4 separate regions of the Homo sapiens genome follow, and all the other regions are linked to region 3. The links come from fine-mapping of genetic effects on gene expression. A gene starts in region 3. Each other region holds a variant in brackets. All regions are shown on one strand. Distances are from middle to middle.

Region 1 (8,106 bases), 220 kb after region 3:
TTCAGGACATAGGCATGGGCAAAAACTTCATGACAAAAACACCAAAAGCAACTGCAACAAAAGCCAAAATTGACAAATGGGATCTAATTAAACAAAAGAGCTTCTGCACTGCTTAAAAGGAACTATCATCAGAGTGAACAGGCAACCTACAGAATGGGAGAAAATTTTTGCAATCTACCCATCTGACAAAGGTCTAATATCCAGAATTTATAAGGGACTTAAACATATTTACAAGAAAAAAAACAATTCCATCAAAAAGTTGTCAAAGGATAGGAATACTACTAAAAAGAAGACATTTACACAGCCAACAAATATATGAAAAAAAGCTCAACATCACTGACCAGAGAAATGCAAATCAAAACCACCATGAGATACCATCTCATGCCAGTAAGAATGGTGATTATTAAAAAGTCATGAATCAATAGATGCTGGTGAGGCTGTGGAGAAATAGGAACGCTTTACACTGGTGGTGGGAATGTAAACTATTTCAACCATTGTGGAAGACAGTATGGTGATTCCTCAAGGATCTAGAACCAGAAATACCATTTGATCCAGCAATCCCATTACTGGGTATATACCCAAAGGAATATAAATCATTCTACCATAAAGACACATGCACATGTATGTTTATTGCGGCATTATTTACAATAGCAAAGACATGGAACCAACACAAATGCCCATCAATGATAGACTGGATAAAGAAAATGTGGTACATATACACCATGGAATACTATGCAGCCATTAAAAATGAGATCATGTCCTTTGCAGGGACATGGATGAAGCTGGAAGCCATCATCCTCAGTAAACTAACACAAGAACAGAAAACGAAACACCACATGTTCTCACTCATAAGTGGGAATTGAACATTGAGACTACATGGACGCAGAGAAGGGAGCAACACACACCTGGGCCTGTTGGGGGATGGGGGCGAGGGGAGGGAACTTAGAGTATGGGTCAATAGGTACAGCAAACCACCATGGCACATGTATACCTATATAACAAACCTGCACATTCTGCACATGTATCCCATTTTGTTAGAGGAAATAAAGGAAAAAAATGAGATTAGAAGAGCTGAAGAATTAGACTAGAGGTGTCTAGTTCCTTTTGTACTGATGACCTTAATGGTAAAAAAGAAACACAGAAAGATAAATCCAAAGGAAAAAGTGTTTAAGGCTTCAGGGTGATGGGACTGTTCTAAAATTAGATTGCGATGATGGTGGCACAATTTTAAATAAAAAGATTACCCTTAATAATCTGGGTGGGCCTCACCCAATCAGTTAAAGGTCTTCGGAGCAAAATCTGAGGTCTCCAAGAAAAGAAATTCTATCTCAAGACTGTAACATCTCCTCCTGCCTGAGTTTTCAGCCTGCTGGCCTGCCCTACAAATTTCAGACCCCACAATTTTGTGAGCTAATTCCTTTACAAAACTGAATATTTTCTTCCCTCTCTCTCTCTCTCTCCCCCCACACACACAAACACACAATTCATTATGTTTCTCTGGAGAGTCCTTACAAATATATATATTTAAAACAAGTGAATTTTATTGTATGTAAATTACATATCAATTTTTTAAACACTAGATACTATATGATTCTATTTATATAAAATTCTAGAAACTGCAAACTGATCTATAATGGGCTTGGGGAAACTTTTGAGGGTGAAGAATATATTCCCGATCTTGATTATGGTGATGGTTTCATGGGTGTTTACATAAGCCCAAACTTACCAACGTGTACACTTTACATAGGTGCAGATTATTATAGTTGATTCTACCTTAATAAGTGTTATCTTCAACAGACACAGAAAGACAAAGCCAAAGGGGAAACTGTCTGAGCCTCAGTACAGATGTGGCCTATGTTGCCTCCATGGTTCCTCTTCCTCCTGCCCCCACCCTGGTGTCCTTAGGCTGCCCAAAGATCGGCAGATGGAAAGGAACACCCTGCCCCCAGTGGACACAGGCCCACCCTCGAGGACTCTGGGGGCATCCTGTTCCTCCTCTACTTCAGGTGAAGATGCCGGCAAGAAACTGTTTCCTGGACACACAGTGAGCCCGTGCATCACTGGAGACAAAGTCGGAAAACAGTGAAAGTCCAGTCTTCTATCAGCAGAAAGAACACTGATAGAGACAGTGTTGTGGTGTCCTTGCTTGCGAGCACCCGGGAATCAATTTATCTTGGAACCAATATTTTGTCCTAAAGGAGTGGGACACAGAGCATCTGTCCTCTCCCTATAGCACAAGCACAGCTGGTCAGAGAACACAAGCTTCCAGTGTCAACCAACATGTAAAACTATAGGGTCAAGAGTCAACAGAAAGAGCTGTTTCCCTCTGAGAGACCGGTAAGCAGAAAGAATTTCTTAGCACAGGGATGCCAACCATGCTTCTCTAAGAACTCAGGCAGGAAGCTTCTGCTCACACAGAACCTTGAGCAAGTCTGTCCATCAGCAAAGGCTTGGGAAAAGCACCCAGGTATGTCCCAGGATAGATAAGGAGGACAACACAGACGCACAGCGGAGAAGAGGTGAGTGTACAAAAAAGCTGTGGTCCAGGTGAGCATGAAGACCAGCTTGTTATGTGCACTTGCTAAGAGTCTTGGGGAAGAGGAAGTGTGATGTCATGTCAGGAGCCACCACAAGGATTTATTCAGGGCCATGGACCAAGAGTCTGCTCCACTGAGTGGCTTCAGCCATTCTTAGCTATACTTTTCTCATCTATATAATGTTTGGGAGTATAAGACCACTCAAGATGTTTCTATAGCTACCACAGAATTATTTCAGACAAGGTTCTGGTGCCCAGAGTTAGCCAAGAAGAGAGGCTGGCCAGGTTCCCAGGGCCAACCTGGCACTCTGTGGGCAGGTCATGGTCTTGTACCCTGATTCCTTCCATCAGAGCTGGCAGCAATGTTAATGGCACTCCAAGAATTCACAAACCTGGGGATTACTGGAGCTTCCAGGTTACCTGGAGATGACGGTTTTTTTGAGGCTAAAACTACAGAAATTTATTTTCTCATAGTTCCGGTGCCTGGAAGTTCAAGATCAAGGTGTCAGTAGAGTTAGTTTCTTCTGAGGCCTCTCTCCTTGACTTGCAGACAGCCGCCGCTTCACTCTATCCTCACGTGGTCTTCCCTCGTGCCATCTCAGTCCTACCTGGGGATGATTTAAGTTCCTGGCTACAGAGGAGGGTGTTGAGTTTGTGTGTGTAAAAGAGATAGTGCCAGATGTAGGAAACAGAGAACCCTAGGACTGTGGGGCTGAGAGGTGACAGAAACACAAAATTCACCTTAAGAAAAAAAAAAAAAAAAGCTGAGATTCACATTCAAGTGACTTAGTTCATGGGCTTTTTGACCATGGAACAATGGCTTGGTTTTTCTGAGCTCATTCTATCATCTGTAAAATGGGCCTAAGGAACTAGCTCATGGCATTGCTGTAAGACTGAAATAATAATGTCACAGTGCCTGTGAACATGCTTTATTTTTTAATTTGTACAAATGTATGGGGTACAAGGGCAATTTTGTTGCGTGCATAGATTTTGTAGTGATCAAGACAGGGCTTTTGGGGTATCTATCACCAGAATAATGTACATTGTACCCACTAATCAATTTCTCATCATTCTGCCCCCTTCATCCCCTCACCCTTCTCTGTCTCCGTTATCTTATCATACCACTCTCTACAGCCATATGAATGCACTTCATAAGCGGCAAGGCCAGCACACAAGTGCGCAGATGAGTGGACGGCTCGACATTGCTTGGAGAGCCTCACTATGCATGGAAGAGGCAGGTTTATCAACACTCGGCTACAACATGGCCCCTCCTGGGGAACAGGCATGAGCCAGGGGCTGTGGGAGCTGGAAGGACAGACTCAGCCCTGCCTAGGAAGGGCTGAGAAATTAACAGTCGCAGCACTGAGTACACTACTGCTGTTCATGAAAACCATGGGCCTGTGCATTTTAATTCATAAAAAGACAATAGGATTCAGATTTTATAATTTTCTATTTTAAAAAAAGAAATCAGTAAGTGCAAGGAGCCTCCCACACTTAGCCTCTAATGCTCCTACCAAGCCCGTAATCGGCTGTTGCTATCCACATTTTACCAGCAACTGAGGCTGAGACAAATTAGGGTTGTCGGCAGAAGTCCCAGAGCCGGGTGGTGACACAGCCAGAATCTAGCCCTGCCACCAATGCTCTTGTTTCCCACTGTAATTTTAAAATAACATAAGCAAGATGTTATAGTTTTTGAATTTAAACATCTTTTAAAATAAGATTATTGTTTTTCTGTGCTAGATTCAAACTGAGCTTTGGAAATGAAGAATTGAGAGAACTTGGAAAGGTTTGGGAAGGACATGGCCAAAATGAGCAACAGCTTGGGGGAGAAAAAAGACACCTTTTCCTGCTGGAGGAAAAATGGAAGAAATTATTCACTGGATGGCACGTTCCAACGAGGCCAGGGGCTGCATCTTCCATCCTCCCTCAGTGGCCTCCTCCTCTTTCTTTCTGCTCCCCAGCTGGGAACACAGTGTATTCTTCTCAGTCTGTTGCTCATTTTAGTCTGAAAAGGAAAAAGCCAAGGGAGTGGAACCAATGACAACCTCCAAGAATCCT[G/C]CATGAGGAATCAGAGGAAAGTGGAGATGAAAAGAGGTTTCACGCTCCACAATATCAGAACAAGAAGAAAAATTCTAGAATGCACTTGAAAAATAACTGTCTTTGTCTGAAACAGGTGTGAGACACTTGAACATGCTACCAAAAATGCGAAGCCTCTTTCTTTGGAGACCTCAAAAAGAAGGCTCAGGCTCCAACATTTTGAAAGGGTAGATTGCACCCCTATAGTCCCGGGGCGACATCTCAATGTAACTGAAAAGCCAGTGACGCCTGTGACTTTGCTGATGTCAAAAGGCTAATTCCAACATGACTTCACGAGCTAAAACGGCTTCTCCATCCATGGCAAGTTTTGCGAGCACCCCGAGGATTCCAGCGACGTGGTTAAGCCGCCGGGAAGACCACGAAGAGCTTTTCCAATATCATCCGAGGCTTTGTGGGAGAGCGAATGTCGAGCCCGTAATAGATGCTTTCTGATCCTCCTCACACTGCATCTGGCTCTCCTAAGTATTGGTCCTATTACGTTTTTAAAAATAGCTCAGAAGTAATTTGAGTGCTGAACTGGCTACAGGATAAAAAAACCCCACCTGAATACATTCTAACTTCTTCCTATCAGCCAGAGACCAAGAACCACAGTCGCAGTTTCCTCGGAGCTAATTTTCAGCATTAGGGTTTATCAGAACCTAAATTCTGTTCTAATAAACGATGGAACAGCAGCCACTCTTTCAGCCACTTATTTGGGCAACCAGGGAATTGGCAGACGAGTTAAAAATTTTCATTGGTGACAACACACAGCTGTTGAGGTGCAAAGATCTGAGACTCTAATCAGACCAGGTTATATACGTAGCACTGTCTCATTATCTCTGCTTGTGGGATAGGGTTCACAGGCAGCTGGGGCTGTACGGGGGTGTCAACAGAATAGCTAATGGCAAGTTGACACACAGAGATATCAACTTGCAAGAGACAAAGTGGGTAACCCTATGCCCCCATCCAACCTTGAAGAAGAACACAGAGTAGGAGTAGCCCCTGCCTACAACTCTCCTTGCGTAAGGCAATAGCCATAATAAACGTGACCCCTTTTTTGGATTTATGAAAAATGGTTAAAAATGACACACCCAGGGCCTCCTGTTGGCCTCCATTTCAATGTCCTCTCAGGAACTTCATATTCTTCCCAACATTTTGAGAAAAGTTGTGATGTTGTCAATAAAGCAAGAAACGCACAGAGTGAGAATTATCTTGAGTGCCCAGCGCAGAACAGGAAGTCAAGAAGTGGGAGCTATTCACACTATGACTACACTGCAGTGAGCAGTGTCATTTTAAATTCTCATTTGCAAAGGAGATGACGGTTATCTTAGAACTAATACAAGTAACAACAAGAATTGACCAAACTAAGGAATGATAAGCAATTTACAAAGTATTTTTACATCCATTATCTGCTTAACCTTTAAATACAGCTGCGTATGATGGGAGTAGTGGTGGGGCTTATTATTCAGACTTTAAAGATGAGCGTTACTGGGGGCTCTATAGAGTAAACAAACTAATATGCTTGTTCTTGCCCAAGTTCAGAACCTACCACAGGGTAGAACAGGAGTCAGGCAAATGAAGAGGAAAATGCTGACTTTATTACTAATACACGTTATTGGGGAGCATGGCTGAGGTATGCCATGAGCCTGTTAACATTCCCTACCCAACCCACTCCCCACAGGCACACACGACACACACTAGTGTAGACCCTGGGGTGGCCGTCCAAGTGAAAGTTTGGGACCACAGCAGATGCATTAACTAAAACTAGAAGACAGGAGGGATGAGAGCAAATCCCTCATGCTGACAGTCTTTTGATGGATGAACTCTACCCAACAGATCACATATGCCAAAGGCTACAACTCCCTCCTTCTCATGGGGATGTGAGGGATAGGGGCCAGGGCGCCAGGAGTGTTACTCATGAAGGCATACGGAAAGGATAAAAAGTGATTTCTCTTAAAGCATCCCAGTTCTTTGTTCTCCTAGCCAACTGGGTTTAACCATTAAGCTTATGGTCACCCAAGGTTGTGGCTATTTTCTCTGGGGGAGCTCTCTGTCCTAACAGTGCCACTCCCATCTTTCTGAGGCCAGTCCCCTCACACTAGCCACAGTTCCTTTGGAGAATCCTTCTGGGATTGAAGGTGGACAGTTGAGAAATGACTCTCAGAAGACTCTGGATGGATCCAAAGAGCATATTAATTTAACTAACGTAAGGGCAAATTCACTTCCTAGTCTTTTTCTCACTCCCTGCCGCCAAAATGTTCAGCTACATTGTCTAATATAATGTTTTTTGGAGGTTCTGCAATGTAATTAAATAACAATATAAAATACTCAATAATTGAATTCCGGCAACACAGAGGAGACCAAATTTGAATACAAACTCCCTTTCATCTGGAAATTCCAAGTGAGATCTTGAAGTCCAAAAATCAAATCTTCTTCTAAGGAAAGTCCAAAGTTTAGGTTCCAAAGAATTAAAGCCCAAAGTTAAATTTCCTTAATGTACAATTAAAATTCCAAAGAACGTCAAGTCCAACACAAATTTTTATTTTTTTTCCCATGACTTGATATGCAAAAAAGTGTTCAAAATTTCATTTCATTTCCAATTTTTTTTTTTTTTTGAGATGCAGTCTCACTCTGTTGGCTGAAGTGCGATGGCGTGATCTTGGCTCACTACAACCTCTGCCTCCCGAGTTCAAGCAATTCTTGTGCCTCAGCCTCCTGAGTAGCTGGGATTACAGGTGCCCGCCACCACGCCTGGGTAATTTTTGTATTTTTAATAGACAGGGTTTCACCATGTTGGCCAGGCAGGTCTTAAACTCCTGACCCCAAGTGATCCATCCACCTAGGCCTCCAAAAGTGCTGGGATTACAGGTGTGAGCCACCATGCCCAGCCCAATTTCCAGTTCTGATGAGTCTCTACCAGAGGGCCTGGGTCTGATGTCTGTAGCAGCCCCAGCCTGGGCTGCCTTCTGTGGGAATGGGTGTGGCTCCTTCATGACCTCTCATGAGCCACATTTTTTAAAGAGTTCAAAGAGTTAATAGGACACATCAGATTATTATAGCCTCAGTCTCATATTCCACATAATTCAGAACCACAAGTAATCCCCAGCCATCAGAACAGGTTTTTGAGCAGACTGTTTTTTCAGAATCCAGTAATGAGTATTGTCAGAGGGCCTGCAATATTTGAAGGAAGGAGAAAGATCTATGGGGTAAGCCACAATTTGGGTCCTGATATCTAAAATTTCGGTCAGTGCTGACATATTTAACAAACTGAGAACCAAATTTGGGATGAATTCTTGAATGTGCCAACAAGCCATGTGAATCCAACCACATTTTTCACCCTTCCAGACAAGATGCAAAGCAACAGGAAGGGGAACAGCACCAGGATACCTGAGCCCACCCTGCCAGCCCAAGGCAGGCATGACACCTCTACGCTCTGTAGATCATGCGCTGTCTATGCCATTTACACTCTTGGCATGCAGTCCTGGCTAAGATCC
Region 2 (8,106 bases), 260 kb after region 3:
GACAACCATGATCCTCTTTAGGCAGGTGCTAGGTTTGGACAGTTCCTCCTGGTTTTTTAGCAGCTTGCTACATAGTGGTGATGGAGGAGGAGGAAGGAGGTGGGAGGTAGAGGTGGCAGCAGAGCCATTTAAATGAGCAGCGTTGGGCCAACTCTTGATTCTTCCTGGGGGCACCTGCCACGTGGAGACTGAGCTGCTCACCTTGCTCATCTCTCCACCACCCCAGTCCCAGTACAGTCTGTCTCCAACCCTGCCTTTCCTTCTACTATTCTCATTCTCCTTTCCATAACAGGACTTTTTTTTTTTTGGTTCCACTTCCCAGGCCATATTTTCATGATACATAATTTCCCTTGGGTTCATAGGTTGGAATTTGACCTCTGGTTTCATAGGGCTCTGGTTCCTGGCAAGTAAGAGAATGCTGCTTGTGAGAGCAACTTAGTGAGAACTAGCGGCTGCCATGGTCAACGTTTCCCAGCCCCCCTACTGATCTGCATGTTAGCTCCATACACACTCAGTTTTGTTCATTTTCAGAAGTGAGAAACTGACTACAGCCGACTTCTATAGGATTCTTAAGCAAATGGAGAGTAACATGAGAGGAATGGTATAGGTTTTAGAGTCTGATAGGCTGGGCTCCCTGTTCTGTTTTAACCACCAATAGGGTGTATGTCGTTGGGAAAAGCACTACCTCTCAGGGTCTTGATTTCCTCATCTGTAAAATGGGAATCATAACAGTCCTTTCAGGAGCTCTTAAAGAAAGAGCTTTCATGTGAAGAAAGAGTGATGGATATAAGATACTGGACTTGCTAATGTTTTTGCAATGCAATCTTTTGTTTTTTGCCTGTGGGTCCTCCCACATACCACTCATTGCCTACAGCATTCTTCAGCTTGCTCCTATTATACGTGATACTTTAGATAGCGTGGTTGGAGGAAACATCTTTGAGGATGTCATATTTGTGTCAAAACCTTACAGAGAGCCAGGCAAGGGAAAGCTTTACCAAATAGAACAGTGCTTATGTGCAGTTACTATGGCTTTAGTCTTCCAGTCTCCATTCATTTCCAAAGTTACTTAGGTCAGTACCTCCCCAACCCCAACCCTATCACTTCCTTCAGTGAGGTTATCATATACATTTATAACACATTAAGTTCTTTTGTTGTAGCCTATATTCCATCCTGGGATCCCCTGACCTCCTAAGTGATTTTTTAAAAGTTGTATATAAGAAGTTCACTGTTTGCAAAGTTCTATGGATTTTAACAAATGCAAGATGTCATGAATTCACCATGACAGCATCACATAGGTGAGTTTCACTGTCCTAAAGAATCCCCCATGCTTCACCTATTCAACTCTTTCCCTTCCCCAAGCCCTGGCAATCACTGATCTGTTTACCATTGCTATAGTTTTGTCTTCACTACAATCTCTTATAAACAGAATCATACAGTAGTCATCCTTTTCATACTGGCTTCCTTCACTTAGCAGCATGTGATTCTGTAACTGTTTTTAACAGTTCATTATTGAGGGCTAACTAGATGTCAGCTTATGCTCTAGGCAGCTTGACTGTAAATCCGCATTTTCCTGGTGTAGTCTGTGCTTACACCTATTATCCTTGCATCTCACTCATCATGGTATTTTAGCACAAACAAAAGTGTCCCAATTTGGAAAATAAATTATATTGTCATCCTAGTTCTAGGTTATGAGACTATATCCACGAACAAGATGAAGTCTCAGCCATTAGGGAACTTACATTCTAATGGATAGAGATAGAGAGTAAAGAAACAAACGAGAAAGTTCCATGTACTAGTATAAAGGGAAAAAAGAAAATATTAACTGAACTAAATAATCCAGGAGATACTTTAGATAGTGTGGTCGGAGGAAAAGTCTTTGAGGATGTCATGTTTATGTCAAAACCTTGCAGAGAGACAGGCAAGGAATCTCCCAGGCAGAGGGAAAAGAAAATACCAAATATCTAAGGCACAGAAACTTGCCATGTTTTCGAAGAGAAAGAACTAAAGGGAGAATAGAATAAGGTGAGTTTGCTGCAACAAGCCAGGTTAAGAAAATCTAGACCTTTTCTAAATTCACTGGGAAATCACTGAGGGTCTTTAGCTAGGGAATAACATGACACGATTCATATTCTAAAAAGATTAGTTGGCCATGCAAAGAAGACACTGGAGTGAGGCATGCATAAAAGCAGAGAGACCAATGGGAATCAATTGCTGTGGTCCAGACAAGAGGTGATGGTGGCTTAAACTTTCATAGTGGTGATGGGAATGGAGAGACATGGTAGAGTCAACATGTATATTGTAGGTGATCTGATGGATTGGATGTTGGGGTTAAAGAAACAGTGATAAGAGATTTCTAGATTTTTGGCTTAGCAACTGTCTGGTAGGATCATTTACTGAGGTTCAGTGCTGGGGGGAATTGGGAAGGAACCATTGGATGGGTGACAATTCCTGGTTTGTTTCAGACATGTTAAGTTTGAAACGTTTGTTACACATCCATGTGGTGATATCAAACAGGAAATCAGTCCTATGAGTTAGTTTGCAATTTGGAAGAGGGTTTAGAGCTGAAAATTAACTAAGAATCCTCATTATGCATTATTTAAAGCTATGGGACTGGTTAAGGTTTCATAAGGAGAGAGTATTGATAGAAAATAAGACTCAGGAATAAGCCCTGGGAACTCTAATATTTATCGGTCAAAAAGTCAAGGAGCAGCCAGAAAAACAGGAGGAAAAATAGGAGTTGGTTTCATCAAAACTAAGAGGGAAAAGTGTCTTAAGAAAGATGGGCAGTCAACTCTCATGAATGTTGCCAAAAAGTCAAGTACAGTGAGGTCTATTAGGTTTGGCAACATGGAGATCATGAGCATCCTTGACCAGGGCAGCTTTAGTGCAGCCATGGAGATGGAAGACAGATGAAACGTGTTGAAGGTGAACTTGAAGAGGAAGCACAAATGGCTCACAGTTTGTTTAACTGTGATAAATTCCGTGATAGTGTAGACCATCTAGCTTTTAGTTTTTGCTGTAACTCCAGCAATTACTTGCCATTTAAATACCTCCACACTCTCATGAATATTTCCAATGCCTATTGTGTAACCTATTTATAACCAGGACATAAGCTAAAAGCTGCACTGAAACAAAGATAACTATTAGAAAGACCTACGAAGATTGCCTGTTTTAGTCAGGCCACTTTTATGTTTCACTTTTTACAATTATCACCTAGGTGAAAGGAAATTGGCAGTCCCCCAAAATTTCTTCATCTTCTTTATGATCACTAGTGCTTCATTTATGGAAGTTTAGAGAATCATGGGTGTTCCTATTATATTACACTGAAGCATTCCCTGTTTAAGAGGGAAGCTGGCCTTTTAAAACAATAAATTTAGAGCAGTAATTCTGATTTAAAATCCCAAATCATATTAGCAAAACCAAGAAGGAGGAGAGAAGGGGGAATTTACATGTTAAATTACTCATCTAAAGTGGGAGGAGGCAAGGGATAATGTTTTACACTTGATATTAACAATTAAGAAACTACAGAATAAAATGTATTTTTGGGTTGACTTCTGGGCCTCCTAAAAGTTATTGCCAAATGCTTCAGCAAAATAAAGCAGACAGAGCCTTAAGATCCGGAAAGGAATCAAACCACCAGCCAGCCAAAGCTATACCATGCCCAGTTTCACTGCAGAGCCTGAGTCCTAGACCACCAATAAAAAGCATGGTTCTGTGGGGCCTACGGACAGTCATTTCAAAACCATTAACTGGAGAGTAAATTAAATTAAAATAAGGAAAGAGTGAAAGAAAAATATCCACCCATTTAAAATGAGCCTAAAAATATAAGTTCCAAATAAAGCAAGAAATAGGAAAAAAGCCAACAAAATTAACGATCAAAATATGAGTTCACTACAGATAGAAATAAAATAAGAAAACAATCTGAAATAGGCCTCAAAATAAATATGTTTAGGATCTACAAAGAGATAAATGAAGGAATCATATCTACAAATAACAATAAAATTATGAAATAGAAA[C/T]GTAAAAAGAACAAGTGAGTATTTTTTAAAATTACAACCATTAAGTTGAAAAATATAGTTGATCTAATAAACTCAACAGGATAATAGGACAATAACTTGACTGGGATTAATTAAAGAGAGAATTGGGGAATTTGAAGAAAATACAAAAATGTTTTCTCTATAGTGTACACAGAGAAATAGAGATTTTTTTTTAAAGAAGAGCTGTTAAAAGACGAGTAATATATTGAGAATTTCTAATATCCATTAAGTAGGAGTTCTGGAAAAAGAGAATAAAGGTAAAAATGGAAAGGCAATATTAAAAAAAAAAAAAGCTAAGAATTGCCCAGTATTGAAGAAAGTCCTTTTAAGTATGCATCAATATTGAACGAAATTAAAAAAAAAAAACAGTGAAACTAGAAAGCACAAAATAATTAAAATAAAAATGTCAAAAGTAGACCTTTGGAAGTCTTAAGCCAGAGTAATTAGGCAAAAGAAAAAACTAAAGGGCATCCAAATTGGAACAGAAGAAGTCAAATTGTCCCTATTTGCAGATGACACGATCTTACACATAGAAAACCCTAAGAGTGCCATCAAACTTTTAGAACTGATTTTTAAAAATCAGTAAAGCTGCAGGATACAAAATCAACACATAAAAATCTATAGCGTTTTTTATAGACTATCAATAAACTAGCTGAAAAAGAAGTCAAGAAAGTAACCACAGTTGTAATAGCAACAAAAATAAAATAAAATAAAATACCTAAAAATAAATGTAATCATGGAGGTAAAAGATCTCATCAATGAAAACTATAAAACACTGATGAAATAAAGAGGACAAAAAAAATGAAAAGACCTTCCATGTTCATGAACTGGTAGAATGATATTGTGAAAATGAGCATACTACCAAAAGCAATCTGCATATTCAATGCAATCGCTATCAAAAGATCAACGACATTCTTCACAGGAATAGAAAAACAATCCTAAAATTCATACGGAACCACAAAAGACCTCAAATAGCTAAAGCAATCCTGAGCAAAGAGAACAAAACTGGAGGCATCACACTGTCTGACTGAAAATATACTACAAAATTATAGTAACCCAAACAGCATAGTACTGGCATAAAAACAGTCATGTAGACCAATGGACCAGAATAGAGGACCCAGAAATAAATCCACACAGTTACAGCCTACTGATTTTTGACAAAGATCTTAAGAACATTTACTGGGGAAAAGACAGTCTATTCAATGAATGGTGATGGGGAAACTGCTTATCTGATATGGTTTGGCTGTGTCCCCACCTATGTCTCATCTTGAACTGTAGTTCCCATCATTCCCAAAGGTTGTGGGAGGGACCTAATGGGAGGTAACTGAATCATGGGGGCGGTTACTTCATGCCATTCTCATGATACTGAGTGAGTTCTCATGAGATCTGATGGCTTTATAAGGGGCTTTGCCCCTTTGCTCTGTACTTCTCCTTGCTGTCACCATGTGATGAAGGATGTCTTTGCTTTACCTTCCACCATGACTGTAAGTTTCCTGACGCCTAACCAGCCATGCTGAACTGAGAGTCAATTAAACCTCTTTCATTTATAAATTATCCTGTCTTGGATGTGTCTTTATTAGCAGCATGAGAACAGACTAATACAATATCCATACACGGAAGAATGAAACTAAACCCTATCTCTCGCTATATATAAAAAAAAGTAAAATGAATTAGACTTAAATATAAGATCCCAAACTATGAAACTGTTAGAAGAAATCATAGCAGAAATGCTTCAGGACATTGGAACAGGCAAAGATTTTATGGATAGGCCTGCAAAAGCACCTGCAACAAAAGCAAAAATAGACAAATGGGATTATATCAAACTAAAAGGCTCCTCCATGGCAAATGAAGCAATCAACAGAGTGAAGAGACAACCTAAAGAATGGGAGAAAATATGTGCAAACCATTCATCCAACAAGGAATTAGTATCCAGAATATACAGGGAACTTAACAGCAAAAAATAATCATAATAATCTGATTTTAAAATGGGCAAATGAACTAAATACACATCTCTCAGAAAAAAAAAATATACAACTGGCCAACCAGTACATGAAAAAATGCTCAACATCACTAATCATCAGGGAAATGCAAATCAAAACCACAAGATATCATTTCACCCATTAGAAAGGCTATTATCAAAAAGACAAAAAAAGGCTAGCAAAGATATGGAGAAAGGGGAATTCTTATACACTGTTAATAGGGATGCAAATTAGTACAGGCATGGTGGAAAGCAGTATTGTGGTCCCTCAAAAAACTAAAAATAGAACTACCTTATGATCTAGCTATACCCAAGGAAGGGAAATCAGTATGTTGAAGAGATTATCCACACCTCCATGTTTATTGCAGCACTATATGCAATAACCAAGATATGGAACCAAACTAAGTGCCCATTAAGAAATAAATGGATAAAGAAAATGTGGCCTATATACACAATGGAATACTATTCAGCCATAAAGAGAATGAAATCCTGGTATTTACAGCAACATGGATGAGCTTGGAGAACATTATGTTCAGTGAAATAAGCCAGGGACAGAAAAATAAATACTGCTTGTTCTTACCCTTATGTGGAAGCTAAAACAGCTGATCTCATAGAAGCACAAAGTAGAAATATGGTTACTAGAGGGAAGGAGAAAATAGGGAGAAGTTGGTTAATGGATGCACAACTACAGCTAGATAGGAGGTACAAGTTCTAGTGTTCTGCAGCACTGTAGGGTGACTATAAACAACAACTTATTGTATATTTTCAGATAGCTAGATGATTTTGAATATTCCCAAAGAAGTGAAAAATGTTTGAGATGATGGATATGCTAATTACTCTGATTTGATCACTACACATTGTATACATGTATCAAGATGTACCCCATAAATATGCACAATTATGTGTCAATTAAAAATAATAAAAGAAAAAAGTTAAAAATAAAAGAGGAAGAGCTGATGATCAAAACTTGTCCCTCAAACGGCAAATCCCTAAGCTGGGATTTACCAACATAGACTGAAAATAAAAATGAGGCTTGTCTTAATCCATTCGGGTTGCTACAACAAAATACCATAAACTGGGTAGCTTATAAACAACAGAAGTTTATTTCTTCCAGTTCTTCAGGCTGGGAAACCTGGTGAGATCCTGATTTCTGGTTCATAGATGGAGCCCTCTTGCTGGGTCCTCCACGGTGGAAAAGGCTCACTAGCTCTCTGGGGCCTCTTTTACAAGAGCACCAATCTGAATCATGCTGTCTCTGTTCTCATTAATCGCCTTTCAAAGGCCCCACCTCCTAATACCATCACCATGTGGGTTAGGCTTTCAGCATATTAATCTGGGGGCGACACAAACACTTAGATCATATATCTGATAGCCTGCACGTATGGACAGACACAGAAAAAGGTTCAATTTTTTTCTGTAGGGTATTTAAATGATGCCTATTTTGTGAATGACATGCAATGTGAAACTGTAGGAAATAAAATGGAAGTAGAGGACATAGGCCCCATCCTTAAAGTGTTTACAGTCTAGTTGGGGGAGAAAGACATTCATCCAATGAACAGCTAGAGACACAAACACCTATCTGATCACAGAGAACTACCTGACTGCATTCAACAGGTATATCATCTTTACCTTTCCAAAACACTTACATAAATAATCTTTTCTCACGACAGTTCTGTCAAGTGAGAAGACTAGATAATGTCCTCATTTCTTAAGTGGGGAAAGTTGGATGGCTGGTCTATGTTATTCAGCAGGTTAATGAAGAGTCATAGTTGCAACCAGCTATTCTGAGTCCTAGATGCATTGAGGTAAAACATCAACCCAGAGACCCCAGAGGATGAATCTTCCAGCAGCTTCTCTTCTGTTCCTTAGCAAGGGCTCCCCAGAACTCATTTTTAAAACAATATGGATTTTTGCTTCTGGTTATGCTTAAGTAGTTTGCAGCAGACCACTCTCTAGCCCAAAACAACTGGAAAAGCTAAATAAAACAAAGCAAGATAAAAGAATTAGTTTCAAGGCATTGGAGAGCTGACAAAACAACCAAAACTGGGGAGAGGAGAATATTCTAAAAAGGAGGACAGCTCAGAGATTTCAACC
Region 3 (8,106 bases):
GACTGGACCGGACGAGATTGAGCAAAGGGGCTTAAAACCAATTAAAAGGAAATCGAACATACCGCACTGGGTTGCAGACGTGAAACAGAAACATGAAAAAAACGGGGGTGAGGGTCATTTGGGAAGGGTAAATGAAGAAGGGGACAGGGTAAAAGACAGACACCCCCAGTTTTGTATAAATAGATTGTGAATAATTTTAATCATAGTGTTCATTTTGGATTTTTCTTGACCCGGGCTAGAGGCAGAACCGAGCTAGTTGGCCGGAGCCTGAGGAGCGCGTGGGCTCCGCAGTCCCGCGGGATTGGGCTTCCCGGGGCCGCAGCTGCGCTTGCCAGGCCCCCGCACAGCTCGGGGCAGGTTTTGTGTTGCACGAGATCGAAAAGGAGGTTTGTTTGGGGGTAGCTGGAGGCGACAGAGGTGGGAGCAACCCTCCAGGCGCAGCCGCCGCTGCTCATTCCCCCAACCAACGCATGTTTCGCGCGGGTGGCGGACTCCGCGAGCATTCCTACCCAAAACCTATACAGACGCAATTAACCCCAACTGGGTTGGCCGAAACGCCGCCACGCTGGGCCCAAGGCAGTCCTTGTCCCCTCACGCTCGCGCAGGCACTTCAGCCTGGCCAACAGGGAACTTCAACGCCCGCAGCGAGCCACACAGCCATCCCTGGAGCTCCCAGCAGCACTGCCGCGGGGGGCGCCCTTAGCGCAGCCGGCAAGTAGTGGGGAAGCCCCACTCTGTCAAAGTTCGGGACCACGGCTCCCCCAAATTGCCTCCCAGCGGGGCACCGAGGCCCCTGAGCGCGTCTCGGGGGGTTGGCTGGGAGGAGGGGCGCCCGCCGAGCGCGGCCCCGTCTGTTTTGGGGCGGGCAGCAGGGAGCTGGGAGAAAGGAACAATTCATTCGCTTCCTGAGGGGGCATAATTTGGGTGGCAGCTGTTACCGCCGAGAAAAGCTGGTGCCCTCGACCCTGACTTTGCCCTTTAACCCCAGCCAACCTGAGCCTGAGGGGTAAACTGTTGGGGCTTGGCCCAGGCCCACTGCTGACCAGAGGCCTCTCCGGGTGCCCTGCGCACCTTTCCGGGGCAACGTGGAGGTACAGCTGATCAAAGCCCCCTTGAAAAAAAAATCACCGGGCTCATAGGCATGTCTTGAAGGGCTCACGGCTGTTCCACACTCTCTGCCAAGGAACTCAAGGCTTTGGCCCCGCTGGGCGCAGACCCCAGACGAAGGGGGTGGGGGGGAGTTGCTTGAGGTTCGGAGAGATTTATAAAGAGAGACCGTAGAAGACTCCAGGTGATCAGTTTTTGCTGGGACCGAAATTCTCCGTAAAACCTGCATGTAACAGAGAATTGCCGAGTTGAAACAGGGCAGTGAATCTCATCCCTACAAATTTCCCTCCCTACCCCCTTCTTCCTTTGGACACTCCTGTCTTACTTGGCTTTTACTAGCCACCCGATCCATTTCCCAATCGCCCTGTATGGCTCTCCCGCCCCTTCCAGTCCAACAGGGAGGACCAAGCCAGAGCTCTGGGGTCGGGGTACCACAGTCAACACAACCCAGAGGCGGGGGGTTTACCTTCTCTACCTTCCCCCAAATCAATGACCCCAGTCCCTGGATCCCGGGGCCTGTGCAGAGACGGTCCGTGCACCCGCCCCGCAAACTCCCTAACCCCCTATCCGTTTTCAAGCGAATCTCCGCAGTTCGGACCAGCACTTCCTAGTCGCAATCCCGCGCACGCAGCGTGGTGCCGCGGTTTGTCCCTTGGGGAGGTGGAGGCGCGCACCGGTCCCTTTCTCGAGAGAGCCGAGTTTTCTTGAAGTGCAAGCTTCCTGTCAGCCTAGGCAAACCAGTTGCAAGGCGCTGTGTCCTCTAGCGGCAAACTCTAGCAGTTCATTTGCGAGCGCTCACCTACACCTAAGGGATCTGGTCTCTCAAATCTGAGACCCAAGAGGGGAGAAAGTGCCCTGAACGCAGTCCAGGCGCTCGCAAATGCCCTCCCCGTAATGAGACCGGGAGACTGGGGCGCAATCGCTCGAACTACGAACAGCTGATTGTCTCCTCCACGGCAGATGGTCTTTGAGCACAGATTTGCATTCATTGTCTTCAAATCTGTTTTCGCGCTGGTGTTCTAGATTTCAGCAGCAGCAGATCTATGCGCAGATCAGAATACAAAAGGAGAAGCAAGAAAATGACACCCAGCCAGGAGGATGTTTAATAGGCACCGCGAGCAGCCCCGCGCAGTTAAAAAACCGTCTAGGGTTTCAGCTGTTCGGTGAGGCTGCTGCCACCGCCTGCCGGCCACCAGCCCGCGGCCAGCACCGCGGCGACCGCGCGCGGTGGGCGAAGTTTCCACGACTCCCCCGTCCCTCCCCGCCCACTACCGGGGGCTTCGGGAACGGAGAGGTGGGGAGGGAACCGGAGGACCCGCGGGAATACTCCCCGGCCGCTCGCGCACTCAGCCCGCCTCGATCTGTCAGCAACCTCTCCTCCACACGGGTGCGACTGCCGCTCGCGCCCGCCCGCCCGCGGGTGTTTTCCTTAGGTCCTGGACCGTTTTCCCCAGCACTGTATTTGAGCAGCACTTGCCCCTCGCTTGTCCGCCCCACCCCATCCCCCGCCTTCTTTCATATGTTCTCCACTCTCAGCAACGTGCAAGCCGCACACAACATCTGATATCACCATGGAACTCCAGGAGACCTGGGGAGCCATTCAGGGAGCTGGGTGCTCTGGGGGACGTTTGCGCAAAACATAAGCACATGTGGCCACGCTCACAAGCATGCACACAGATCCGAACCCCGGGAACGAACGTGCCTCCCGGCAGGCTACAAAAGCCTACATCTAGAGGCAGGATCCAGGGAGGCTTCCCGCAGCCAGGCCGAACCCCTGCGTCCCCAGCCCGCAGAGACCTGCTACCCTAAGTCAGTGCAGGGTGTGGGGGCCCCCCAATCCTGCGCAAGCACACGGGGTTCGTGCTAGGACTCGACGCCCGCAGCTTTCTGTCCCCTTTCACCTCCCGGAGTCCCGGCAACGCAGAGCGTGGCGCGCGCCGCCGGAGGACGTCGGCCCGGCTTGCCAGGCGCCGGCCAATCCCGCGCGTCCATGCAAATGAGGCTCCTTATCGGGCCGCAGCTCCGCCTCCCGCAGCCAGGGCCGTAGTAACCCATTCATGGGGCCCGCGCGCGGCTGCAGCCGGGCTCCGTGGCGCTCGCAGCCACCGCCTCCTCTCGGCTCCAGGTCTTCCCCTTCTTTTTACAACTGATCCTGTTGGGGATTTTTTTTTTTTCTAAATTGGAACGGTGGGGAGGAGCAGGGAGGGGGGACCTGGAGGAAGGGGAGAGATTAGGCAGCCATCAATTTCCTCCAGTTTCTCCCAGAACAGGTGATGCTTCTAAATTGTGATCACTTTCAGGAGGCAGCACTGCAGCTGGAAGGATGCGAGCGACCTAGGGTGGAGTGGCTGAGGCGGCAGATCTGAACTTGCGGAGGATAAGAACCCAAACTTTGACTACATCAGTCCGCACCTCGCCAGTGAAGCAAAGGACGGGTTATCTTTTTTTTTTTTCTAAGACTCAAACTTGGGCACTTGATCCCTTTTCTTGGATTGCTTTGGAGGAGACGATTTGCTGGCAACGTTGGGAACAGTCAGGACTGTGTTGTAACTCTTACTTTTAAAGCGACAGTAGAGGATCAGACTTTTTAAATGTTTGGAATTCAAGATACTTTAGGAAGAGGACCAACTCTGAAAGAGAAATCGCTGGGCGCGGAGATGGATTCGGTCAGGTCCTGGGTCCGGAATGTCGGAGTGGTGGACGCTAATGTCGCCGCGCAGAGGTAACGACACGGCCGCGCAATTATTATGCTGTCTCTCGCTCTTACGGTCTGTCTCTCCGTGTGCACCCCCCCCGCGCACCCCGTGCCTTTCTCTCTCCCTGTCCCCCCATCTGTCGCCCAGGCCCTGCGCGCTGGGGCTCGCCCTCGGGCAAGCAGATCGCTGCAGTCAGGCGAACGCTCACCCGGCAGCCGGCACTCGAGTTCCTGAACTGCCTGGGTCGTAGGCGTTTCTCTCCCTCTCCTTTACCACAGTCCACTCTTTGCAAGGAAAAATAAAGTAGCCCCCAACATCTCCCAGCTCAGCCCCTAGTCCTGCAAGCCGAGCCGGCCTGGCCCCGAACGGAGCGTGAACACCGGCGCTGGCAGTGGCGGCGCGGGAGGAAAGCCGGCTTCCTGGCCACTCTTGGCTTCGCCACGCCGCCTGCGAGCGCCTACCTCCCGCATCTTGCTGGGCGATTCCTGGAGCCTGGGAGGCCGGCGGCCAGAGGGTGGCGGCGGCGAGGGGAGCGGGAAAAGCCGGAGCGGCTGCCCGGGAAGACGAGGCGGCCGGGAGCTCTGGGAGGGGGGACAGGCTGGAGGGTCCCGGCTCAAAGATAAAACAGTGAGCCAGACGAACGGAGCTAGGGAACTGGAGAAAAGAAGAGATTTAAAAGAAGAGAAAATACTGAGTCACAGTAGAAAGAGTTGCGGAAGAAGAAAGAGGCGAGAAAAGGCCACCAGCAGCTAGACTGGCTCAGGGATCGCCAGCCTCTGGTTTTGCGGATCCCTGAAGTTGACTTTGTGTTTAGGCGTCTGCGTGCTGGGATAGTAAATACCATGTCCGGGGTGCCACCCTACGAAGACATTACGGTCCCACTCTCTCATCACCACTACTGAGTTGGGATTTGTGGCCTCCAGGTCCTTGTCTGCGAGAGAGGCAGCCCTTCTACCCCCAAAGAGCCGATGAACTTCTTCCACTACCCTCGCTTCCCCTGCTGCCCTCCTGGCCACCCACATTTAAGTGCCAACATCACACGGAGAAATGATCCCTTTCCCAAACTGGCCAGGTGTCCCGGGTAGAGCGAACCGGCCTCTACCCTTGGAGCGGAGAAAGCAGAAGTTTTATCGCTCCGGGACTTGGGCCGGCGGCGGTTCCCTCCCTCCTGTGGCCCGGGGAGCGCGGATTTCCCTCCGGCAGACCGCACAGCGCGGCGGCCGCGGCTTTCCGCAGCGCTTCGGGACTGGCCCGCCTGCGAGCTAAGGGAAATAAGGCAGCACCGCAGAGCCAACTGTGCCGCGCATTTCCTTAGCTGGGCTCCTTAAAGACGCCTCCCTCGCTTTCCTTCCTTCCCGGGATCAAAAAGTTTGTTGAAGCTGGAAGGAGCAGACTTAGTGGGGGAGAGCTTAGCCAAAATGTTACCCCTTTCAAAAGAGTGAATGAAGGTGCTTGCGCACCGGGGTTCAACCTGGGAGACCCCAGCGCCGCAGGGCAGCTCCCGCAATCTGTGCGTTCACCTCAGCCCCAAGTCTTCGGTGAAATGGGATCTGATGGCCAGGTGGGCTGTGACTGCGACCGGTTGGCTGGGAAGCGTGTGCACACACTCAGCACGCTCGAGGGCGCCTTCCGGGTCCCCCAACTTGGGTTTCACAGTCACTGGGTTCGGCTGGCGCCGCCAGAAAACGCAGCATGAGTGGGGATCGCGTTGGCCCCAGGAAAGGAGGTTCTCGCCTTTTAACAGTTTGGCTTTTCCCCACCTAGCACCTCTGGGAGGGAGGGCCCCCTATGTCGGTCATCTCATTTGTGGTGGCCAGCGATCCCCGGGGCTGGTCGCGAGGATTCCGCCCTGTCTCTGTCCCAGGCACAACTTTTCGGAAGAGCGAGGCAAGCAGCCCAAGGACCCAGACCTGGACTCTGTGTTACTCTCCCGCCTGCCCCTTGGGGTTCTTACCCACTACCTTTCCCAGTCAGCATTTGGGCGTTGTGAGCAGTGGGTCCAGGACTGATAACTCGAATTAATACTAAATAAAAGGGTCGCTTCTTCCAAAGCAAAGGAGGCACTTATTCCCCTAACCCTGGGCCCCAGCTCTGCATCCTGATACACCCAGCAGTACCACCTGAGGGAGTGGATGGAGACAGCCCCACGGTATAGGACGCGGGCCACCTCCTTAGGGGACCACTCTGGGCCTCTGTCTGCAGCCGGGGTCTTTCGGTTTCGACTAAAGACGGGATGGTGAGTGGCCCAGCGGTGGGATGCCGGACCACTTGGTGGTGTCAGAGACCCCAGGTATCAACCCTGCCACCCAACCCCCGTGGCCACGGTGACTCCTTTAAGGAGTCTCCTCTTCCTTATCCGAATTGGAAAAAAGGCCCGAAGGGTTCAGAACTCTGGACCTGGGAAGTGGACCCCTTACCCCTCTGCAGTGTTGTGGGCGGTTAGTAACATCGCCTTTTTGTGCTTCCCCGTGTCTTGTGTTCCCCCGTTTTTCTCCCTGTGCAGCGGGGTCGCCCTGTCCCGGGCCCACTTTGAGAAACAGCCTCCTTCCAACTTGAGGAAATCCAACTTCTTTCACTTCGTCCTGGCGCTCTATGACAGGCAGGGCCAGCCGGTGGAGATCGAGCGGACGGCCTTCGTGGACTTTGTGGAGAATGACAAAGTAAGCGGAAAGTACCCCCCAAACCCCGCGGCCTAATAACTCCCTCTTGCGAAGCACTAAAGATTCCATCTGTCACTCTCGCGACACTTTTCCACTCTCACCATCAGGGATGATAAATCGAGGCTACTCACCCCCAGCCTCTAAATCAGTCGATTTCCCGAACCTCCTCCCACCCCGACTCCCCCAACCTGGAGCTGGAGGAGCGCTCCCGGCTCTGCGCACCGAGCCTGGAGGCCTTAGTAGCGCCTGGTTATGGACTGACGGCGGAGCAAACGCCCCTTGGACTAGTTAAAAAGTACACCCAAGGCCGCCGCTCCCCTTCTCTGGGTTAATTTTAATTATTTTGCACCTGCGAGAGCCAGGTGGCCTGAGTTGCGGCACTAAGTGGAAACCGGCAGCCCAGCCTTGGCCTGCCTTCTGGCCGTGTCTTCTCTCCTGTTCTGTTCTCCAAGGCAGCGCCTCCTCCAAACTCAAGCCTGGAATTGGGGGCTGGGTTCGGTCTCAAATGAAGGACAGTCCGCCGAAACCTATGTGTGACCAAAGGAAAATCCCTTGCCCTTTCCGGGTCTCCGTGTCCCCAGCTGTACAATGTGAGCTTTAGAGTAGGCACTTCCCAAAGTCCCTCCTGAACCTGGAACTCAGTCCCTGAGCTCGTGGCCCTGCGTGCGCAGTCCTCGCGGGATAGGCCCGAATGCTGCCTTTCCAAATGACAAGTCCCTTCACTTTTCTGCCAAGGGAAGCCTTGGGGCTTCCTAAGGACAGACAGAGCCCGATGGGTTGGGTGGTGCCTGTTTAAAGGCAGCTTTGGCAAGTGGTCCTGTTGTCGGAAGCTCAAGGGTCACACTTCTGAGGACATTTTTAAGGGAGACAGAGGGCTGGAAAGGGTCAAGTGGCTACGAGTCTTGGCAAGTTTCCGGGGGCGGCCAAGGACAGGCAGATGCTCATGCCCTTTGACCTAGGGCTGAACAGGGGGTTACTCAAAGCTGCCTTTTGATGGGGAGAAGGGATGTGAGGTGGGGATTCACTGTCTCCTCTTTCCCTCATTTTGGGGGGCTGAAAGGCAAGGGAATCGAACGCTGCCTGTCTTTTCAGGAACAAGGCAACGAGAAGACCAACAACGGCACTCACTACAAGTTACAGCTCCTCTACAGCAACGGTGAGCTCTTCTACAGCAACGGTGAGCCGGCGCCTAGCAGCCGGCTTCCGGGCCGCACGCGCTGACCTTGCCATGATCACTCTCAGGGATCGCATGGAGCCCAGGGCGGCGGGAGGCTTGCCTGGGACAGGGGATTGGGAGGTCACCGTCTCCAGGGCGGCTCAGCATGGAGAGGCTGCTTGGGCCTCAGACCCATGGCAGAGAAGGGTTTGGGGTGCCCGGAAGGGGCTCTACGGCCCTTGACTCGTGCCCCTCCGGTCCCCGCAGGTGTCCGCACGGAACAGGACCTCTATGTCAGGCTCATCGACTCGGTCACCAAGCAGGTGAGCCGGAGGCCACTTGGCTTCTCTTCGCCTGTCTCTGACCCCGACCCCCAAACCCCCCAGTTTGTTTCTGACCTGCCCCTCCTCCACGATTTCCTGGGTCAGACTCCACAGCCCCCTCCACGTCCCCCTCCCAGCACCTTGTCTGCTAGGGAAGATTTTTT
Region 4 (8,106 bases), 130 kb before region 3:
TTAAGAACTGAAGAGATTAGTCCCAGCTACTTGGGAGGTTTAGGTGGGAAGATCGCTTGAGCTCAGAGTTGGAGGCTGCAGTGAGCTACGATCGGACTCCTGCACTCCAGCTTGGGTGACAGAGAGAGACCCTGCCTCAAAACAATAGAAAAGAACTGAAGAGATTAATGTTCAATTTTAGACTATTTGTGGCATCCCATAAAACACTGAGCCCACCACACTTCATGTTCCTCTGGCGTGTCCTTCACACAGCCGTGAGTTGGTGGTACCTTGAGGACTGATGGCCTGGAGGCAGTGATGAGTTGGATGAGATGGTGCAGAAGAGGACAGCACAGAGAAGGCAACATGCAAAGCAGAGCTCCTGCTTCTAAGCCCTGTAAGCCGCAAGTGACTAGGAGAAACTTCAGGCCGCCTCATCACCTCCCATTCCCACTCCAAGAATCCCTGCAGATGTTGGGATGGGCACTTGGTTTTACAATATATGCCTTAGTCAGTCAGGCTGTTATAACAAAATACCATAAACTGGGCACCTTATAAACAACAGAAATTTATTTCTCACAGTTTTGGAGGCTGGAAGTCTAAGATCAAGGTGCCAGCAGGGCCTCCTTTCTGATCTTCCTGGGTCCCCTTCTGTGTCCTCACCTGGTGGAAGGGCCAAGGCAGCTCTCTGGGGCCTCTTTTATAAGGCCACTAATCTCATTAATGAAGGCTCTGTCCTAATGACCTAGTCACTGCTCCAAGGCCTCCTCTCCTAACACCATCACATTGATGACTAGTTTTCAATATACGAATTTGGAGGGGACACAAACACCCAGAACATGATATTCTATCCTAGGCTCCCCAAAATTCATGTCCTTTTTGCATACAAAATGCATTCATTCCACCGCAATTACTCCCAAAGTCTTAACTTGTTCCAGCTTCAACTTTAAAGTCTAAGACCAAAGACTCATCTAAATATCATCTGAATCAAATATGGTGAGACTCAAGGTATGGTTCAGTCTGAGGTAAATTGCCCTATAGTTGTGAACCTGTGAAATCAAGCAAGTTATGTGTTTCTAAAATACAGTGGTGGGACTGGCATATGGTGGACATTCCTATTCCAAAAGGGGAAAATAGGAAAGAAGAAAAAGGTAAGAGTTCCCAAGTAAGTCCAAAACCCAACAGGGCAAACAACATTAAATCTTAAGCCTCAAGAATAATCTTCTTGGCCAGGTGCGGTGGCTCAGACCTGTAATTCCAGCACTTTTGAAGGCTGAGGTGGGAAGATTGCTTGAGGCCAGGAGCTCAAGACCAGCCTGGGCAACATAGTGAGACCTCTTTTCTACAAAAAATTAAAAAAAAAATTCTGGGTGTGGTGGTGCATGCCTGTAATGCTGGCTACTCAGAAGGATGAGATGAGAGGATCACTTGGGCCCTGGTGATTGAGGCTGCAGTGAGCAGTATTTGTGCCACTGTACTCCAGCCTGGACAACAAAGTCAGACCCTGTCAAAAAGAAATAATAATAATTTTCTTCTTTGACTTGATGTCCTGCTTTCTAAACACACTGTCATGGGAGTTGGGTCCCAGGTGGCCCCACCCTTATGGCTTTGCTAGGTGCATCCCATACCACAGCTTACTTGGGTTGGAGTTGCTTGTCTGTGGCTCTCCCATACTGGAATTGCAAGCACGTGAGTCTATCAGTCTAGAGTCATGAGGGCAGCTTTGCTCCCATGGCTCCACTGGGCATTGCCCTGCCCTCATAGTGGCCCTCTACCTGAGTCATACATCCAAGAGACTCTATTCTTTAAAATCTAAGTGGAGGTAGCCCTTCCCCCATGGCTCATGCATGCCAACTGCTGGCAAAGATGGCACCACACAGGTGCCACCCAGGGTGACTTTTCTGTGCCCTCCAGAGAGGTAACCACCACAGCCCGTACTGCAACTGGGCTTACTGGAGCCATTCCTAGGGTGGCTGAGCAGCACTGTGCCTGCATGCAGGGAGCAGAGCCTTGAAATTGTTCTGCCCCATCCTAAGCTCTTATACTCTGGGCTTCTGATAAAAGGGTCAACCCCAATGAACTCCAATGCCTTCAGGGTCAATTATTCCATTGCCTTGTTAAATAACACTTGGCCTCTGTTGAGATGGCAGATCCATATTAGTCTCCTTATTGGTTGCTTGGCCACACTCTTGTTCTTTCTCATTTCCTTCAATATGGATAGGCTGAGAATTTTCCAAATTTTAAAGTTCTGCTTTCCTTTTGATTAAAAATGTCATCTTTAAATCATTTGTCTCTTCTTGCATTTTATTATAGTCATTCAAAAGAAACCAAGACAAACCTTCAACATGTTGCTTAGAAATTTCTTCAGCTAAATATACTATTTTATTGCTTGCAAGTTCTACCTTCCACAAAACACTATGATGTGAACACAATTCAGCCAAGTTCTTTGCCACTTTATAACAGAGGTAGGCTTTTGTCCATTGTCCAAGAACATATTGTTCATTTCCATTTGAGACCTCATCAGAATGGTCCTTACTGTCCATATTTCTACCAACATTCTGATCATAACCACTTGAATATTCTCTGAGAAGTTTGGGGCTTTCTCTACAGTTCTCCTTTTTTCTTTTTAGGCCCTCAACAGAATTACCCTTTAAGTCCATTCATTGCACAGTAGGCTTTTTCTAATATGCAACTCAAAACTCTCCCAGCCTCTCCTCATTACCCAGGTCCAGAGCCACTTTCACATTTTAAGGTATTTGTTACAGCAGCACCCCCACTTCTCAGTGCTAATTTTCTGTCTTAGTCCATTCAGGCAACAATCGCAAAATACTGTAGACTGGGTGGCTTATAAAAAACAGAAATTTGTTTCTCAGAGTTCTGGAAGCTGGGAAGTACATGATCAAGGAATTGGCAGCTTGAGTGTCTAGTGGAATCCTGCTTTCTAATTCATAGATGATGTCTTCTTGCTGTGTCCTCACATGGATGAAGCGGCAAGGCAGATCTCTGCCTTCATGATCCAATCACCTCCCAAAGGCCCCATCTCCTGATACCATCACATTAGCAGTTAGGTTTCAACATATGAATTTGGGGGGAACAAAAGCATTCAGGCCATATATAGTACCATATCTAGGATGAGTGTTTGAGCTGATTTAAAAAATTGTATTATGAAGCGCAAGAAAACTCTAGCAAGGTAGAAGACTTGGAAATATTGAGGGGCTGATATATATCTGGGCTATTGTGGTAACCAGCTTCGAAAGAGGCCCTCAATGATGCTTGCCCCTTGGCATTCAAACACCTGTGCAGTCTTCTCCCACACCAAATAGAGCTGACCTGTATAATTAATAGGATATTACAGAAATAATGGTGTCTGACTTCCTTTTTTTTTGAAACAGAGTCTCACTCTTTCACCGAAG[C/A]TGGAATGCAGTGACGTGATCTCGGCTCACTGCAACCTCCGCCTCCTGGGTTCAAGTAATTCTCCTGCCTCAGCCTCCCAAGCAGCTGGGATTACAGGCACACACCACCACTCCCAGCTAATTTTTGTATTTTTAGTAGAGACGGGGTTTCACCAGGTTTGCCAGGCTGGTCTTGAACTCGTGACCTCAGGCGATCCATCCCCCACAAAGTGTTGGGATTACAGGCATGAGCCACCATGCCTGGCCAATGGTGTGTGACTTCTGAGGCTAGGAAATAATAACACATTGTGACTTCCACCTTGCTACCTCTTGGATGGCTCCTTCTGGGGAAGCCAGCTGCCATGTTGTGAGGACACTCAAGCAGTCCTCTGGAGAGGGCCATGTGACAAGGAACTGAGATCTACCAATAGCAAGTGCAAACACCAATTTGCCAATGATGAAACTTGAAATCATATCCTCTAGCCCCTGTCAAACCTTCACTGACTACATCCCTGGTTGTCAACTTGACTGTGATCTCAAGTAACAACATCACACAGATTTTCATGAGCCGTGAGCCAGAAACACCCACCTGATGTGCTCCTGTGTCTTTGACCCACAGAAACCATGAGAAATGGTACACAGTGTGACAATGTTTATTGGTATTCTAAGCCATTAAGTTTTGGGGTAATCTGTTACTGATCTATAGCCAGATAATATATTACGCTCTCAGTCAAAATTCTTTGTGGATAATTATCTCAACTCTCTGGGCTACCCCCACTCCCACATACACTTTGTGTGTTGTGCTCAGAGAGTAGTGTGTTCCCTTTTCTTCCAGAGCCTCTAAGTACTATTTCAAGAACACTTTTCTTTTCTTTCTTTTTTTTTTTTGTTTGAGATGGAGTCTCACTCTTTCACCAGGCTGGAGTGCAGTGGCACAATCTCGGCTCACCACAACCTCTGCCTCCTGGTTCAAGTGACTCTCCTGCCTCAGCCTCCTGAGTAGCTGGGACTACAGGCGTGTGCCACCACACCCAGCTAATTTTTGTATTTTTAGTAGAGATGGGGTTTCACTATGTTGGCCAGGTTGGTCTCGAACTCCCTACTTCGTGATCTACCCACCTCAGCCTCCCAAAGTGCTGGGATTACAGGTGTGAGCCACTGCGCCCGGCCCTTCAAAAACACTTTTCAAAGGTTGCTGTGCACTGAAGCAACCTAAACACTTAATTCCAGATCCCTGAGTCCTATGTATTTCTAATGTAGACCAATCACAGAAAAAACGAAAACATTTCCTTGCAAACATGAGATATTTGTTCAATTCCCATCCATTAAAAAGCAACTTTTGAGTTTGTTTTATCACAAATTTTAAAAATCTTAGAAATATGACATTCCAATATGTTTACAACAGATATTATTTTGAAATTTTTTAATTTTTTCTTGATGGAAACTTTAATGAGAAAGAGTCAGCTTTTTTATGGTTAACTATAATTTATTGTACATTTTCTTCTTTAACTTTTATTTTAAGTTCAGAGTACATGTGCTGGTTTGTTATATAGGTAAACTTGTGTCATGGGGGTTTATTGTACAGATTATCAGGTATTAAGCCTAGTACTCATTATTTTTCTTAATCCTCTCCCTCCTCGAATCCTTCACCCTCTCATAGGCCCAACTGTCTGTTTGTCCCCTCTATGTGTCCATGTGTTCTCATCATTTAGCTCCCACTTATAAGTGAGAACATGCGGTACGTGGTTTTCTGCTCCTGCATTAGTTTGCTAAGGATAATGGCCTCCAGCTCCATCCATGTTCCTGCAAAACACATGAACTTGCTTTTTTATGGCTGAATAGTGGTGCATCCATGGTGTATACATGCCAAAATACATCCATGGTGTATATGTACCACATTTTCTTTATCCAATCTACTGTTGATGGGCATTTAGATTGATTCCATGTCTTTGCTATTGTGCTGCAGTGAACGTACGCATGTATGTGTCTTTATGATAGAACTATTTATATTCCTTTGGGTATACACCCAGTAATGGGATTGCTGGGTCAAATGGTATTTCTGTTTTTAGGTCTTTGAGGAATTGTCACACTATATTGTCCACAATATATTGTCCACTATATTGTCCACAATAGTTGAACTAAATTACTCTCCCACCAACAATGTGTTGCTCTTTAGTTTAATTAGATCCCGTTTGTCAATTTTTGCTTTTGTTGCATTTGCTTTTGGCATTTTCATCATGAAATCTTTGCGTGTTCCTATGTCCAGAATGGTATTGCCTCGCTTATCTCCCAGGGTTTTTATAGTTTTGGGTTTTATATTTCAATCTTTAATCCATCTTGAGTTAATTTTTGTATACGGTATAAAGAAGGGGTCCAGCTTCAATCTTCTGCATATGGCTAGAGAGTTATCCCAGCACCATTTATTGAATAGGGAGTTCTTTCCCCATTGCTTGTTTTTGTCAGCTTTGTTGAAGATCAGAGAGTATAAAAGAATTTTAAAGACGCTGTTAGATGCAATGTAAAATGCAAACTTTGTGCATCACAACTTTAACTTGTGAGTGATTATCATGCCCAGTTGTCAATACATCACTGATTGATATTTAGAGTAGTTGTACCAGAAGTAGATTCAACCAATAAAAATGTTCAAGTTGGTCATGCACACATTAGTGTCTACCCCAGCAATTGGTAAGTAAGCTGTAGTGGTAGTAGATGATGGCTATCAATGATGGAACAATAGAAAAAAATTAATTATCCATGGCCAGTAACTGCTAATAAAGTAATACAGTCACACATATTTCCAAAATGTCTATGAATAGGAAGGAGAATAATAAAGGCAGGAAATAGAAATCAAGTTGTGCCAAAGGACCTAAGCGGGTAATTTTAGAGAAACAGAAGTTGTCACATGTATGGCTTGTACCCAAGATCATGTTATCTCTGTTTAATGCAGCTTCAAATGCTAAGGCTGGACAGTGGCGATAAATCCAGGGGTAGAACACTCTGTTGGAGGAAGAGTGGGCAAGACAGGATTGTATTATCAGAGGGATAAAAAGCATCAGTAGTCCAACAGGTCTGAGCTGGCATTAATATGTCCAAACTCCAGCCGAGAATTAGCTTTAGAGACATCTAAGAAAACTTCTACTGGGAAGCTGTGATTCAGAGCAGGAAATCCAGTCCCTGGGGTGGAATTTCCAGCTGATTTTGCTGGGACTTCACAAGTTTTGCATCCACCTCCTGAACCCTAGAAAAGGCCTCTTCTCCTCAGGAGGCTCCATAGCCGTCTCCAAGGGAGACCCCCAAAGGCCCGCATAGAAGGCTGGATGTCTCTGGCCTTCCCTTGGGGCCCAATACACCTCAAGTCATGGCTGCTCTTTGGACCCTGAAAACCCACTTCCTGAGGGTCAGCAGTCTTTCTACCCAAGCAACGGAAGCTCCCCTCCACCTGGGACTTCCTTCCTGCCAGCTGTGGGCAGTCTAGCCCCTCAGCTCCCTTAGGGTGCATGGTTATTTTCAAACTCCCAGGGGTAGTCTTGATCTTTCAGATGTACAGCCCCCTTTGTTAGCAGCTTAGAACAAATTCCCAAGAGCTGGGAAGGAGGCTTCTTGGGGAAGTACTCTCTGCTCAGCACCAGTGACCCTCCTCTCCTGATCAAATCCCATAAGGAGGATGCAGATCCTTCTGCTGTTAAGGTGAGCTCTCTTTACCCTCTTTTTGGAGGACTTGGAGCTTACATTTTCCTCCTCTCCTTTGTACAAGAATCTTAATTTCTGTGTCCAGGATGTGACTCCTGACCTGTAACTCCTTTTTCAGTTTTTCTCAAAGGATACTTATGAAGGGGGACATCCCAGAATTTTGAGTGAGAATAAAGGTTAGACTAACTCATGTTGCCAAACTAGACTTATCTTAAAGGAAAGAGTCCTCTTTTATTTTTTTTTCCTTCCTTGGGCTTCTTTCCAAAGCATTGTTTATAGTTGTGTCTTAAAAAAAAGAAAAAGGAAATTACAGACTTTAAGTCTGACCCTTGCAAAAGGTCTAAATCTGTGATGGGAACTGGGTTTACAAGACAGAACAGGTCCATGCAAAGAGTTTGTAGTTTAACATGACCCACAAACAAGTACATGGGCACAGCTCTGAAGGAGGCATTTCTCTCCTTGGAAAGCATCCTGGGGTTCCCAGGATCAAGTTCAAGGTCACTGCAGTGTCACAGCTCTGAAGGAGGCATTTCTCTCCTTAGAAAGCATCCTGGGGTTCCCAGGATCAAGTTCAAGGTCACTGCAGTGTCACAGCTCTGAAGGAGGCATTTCTCTCCTTAGAAAACATCCTGGGTTCCCAGGATCAAGTTCAAGGTCACTGTGCAGTGCACAGGGCTCTTCAAGATCTGGCTCCCCCAACCCTGCAAACTCACCTTCTCCATCAACAAGTAAGTTGTGTCTAGGCTCTCTCATGACTTTGGTTATGCTACTTCTTTGCCTTGAGTGTCCTTTTCCTCTGGCTATACCCATTCAACTTTCTGCAGACAGATTAAATGACACTGCCTTTGTAAGACTTTCCTAGATCCTCCCAGAAAGAGTTAGTAACAACTCTGTTCTGGTCCCGCCGCATGCTATCTGTAGCTCATGTGGTTGTGCTGTAATTATTCATTTAAATGTCTTGCTGCCCTGATTGCCTACAAGCTCTTCTGGGATGGACTTTATTTGTATCTGTATTCCCAGCTATACTAGTCCATTTTTGCACCAC

Which allele goes with the higher level. Positions count from the first base shown, and alleles are read on the strand shown. Sizes are in standard deviations (SD) of each study's normalised expression. Not every link is listed here.
As copies of A replace C in region 4, the expression in nucleus accumbens of the gene that starts at base 3,145 in region 3 goes down (small effect, 0.31 SD a copy in GTEx).

What was found. PIP is the estimated chance that this variant, and not a neighbour inherited with it, causes the effect.
Region 1: its variant is fine-mapped to the expression of EBF2 in lung (TOPMed, PIP 0.99).
Region 2: its variant is fine-mapped to the expression of EBF2 in lung (TOPMed, PIP above 0.99).
Region 4: its variant is fine-mapped to the expression of EBF2 in nucleus accumbens (GTEx, PIP 0.98).

The regions. Positions count from the first base shown.
Region 1 is chr8:25,818,173-25,826,278 of GRCh38, reverse strand. The region is part of intron 1 of LOC107986933 (a long non-coding RNA gene); the gene reads right to left. Among named protein-coding and RNA genes, the nearest start is that of EBF2, 220 kb to the left of the region's middle. The variant G/C (reference allele first, on the strand shown) is at 4,595.
Region 2 is chr8:25,776,443-25,784,548 of GRCh38, reverse strand. All of the region lies in intron 1 of LOC107986933 (a long non-coding RNA gene), which reads right to left. Among named protein-coding and RNA genes, the nearest start is that of EBF2, 260 kb to the left of the region's middle. The variant C/T (reference allele first, on the strand shown) is at 4,017.
Region 3 is chr8:26,040,452-26,048,557 of GRCh38, reverse strand. It overlaps EBF2 (EBF transcription factor 2), which reads left to right and starts at 3,145. Exons shown (of 16, transcript NM_022659.4): 1 at 3,145-3,829; 2 at 6,307-6,463; 3 at 7,556-7,619; 4 at 7,887-7,942. The coding sequence starts at 3,699. RefSeq lists an enhancer at 1-629 and a silencer at 4,931-5,225.
Region 4 is chr8:26,173,521-26,181,626 of GRCh38, reverse strand. The region is part of intron 2 of LOC105379336 (a long non-coding RNA gene); the gene reads left to right. Among named protein-coding and RNA genes, the nearest start is that of PPP2R2A, 110 kb to the left of the region's middle. RefSeq lists a silencer at 3,509-3,675. The variant C/A (reference allele first, on the strand shown) is at 3,393.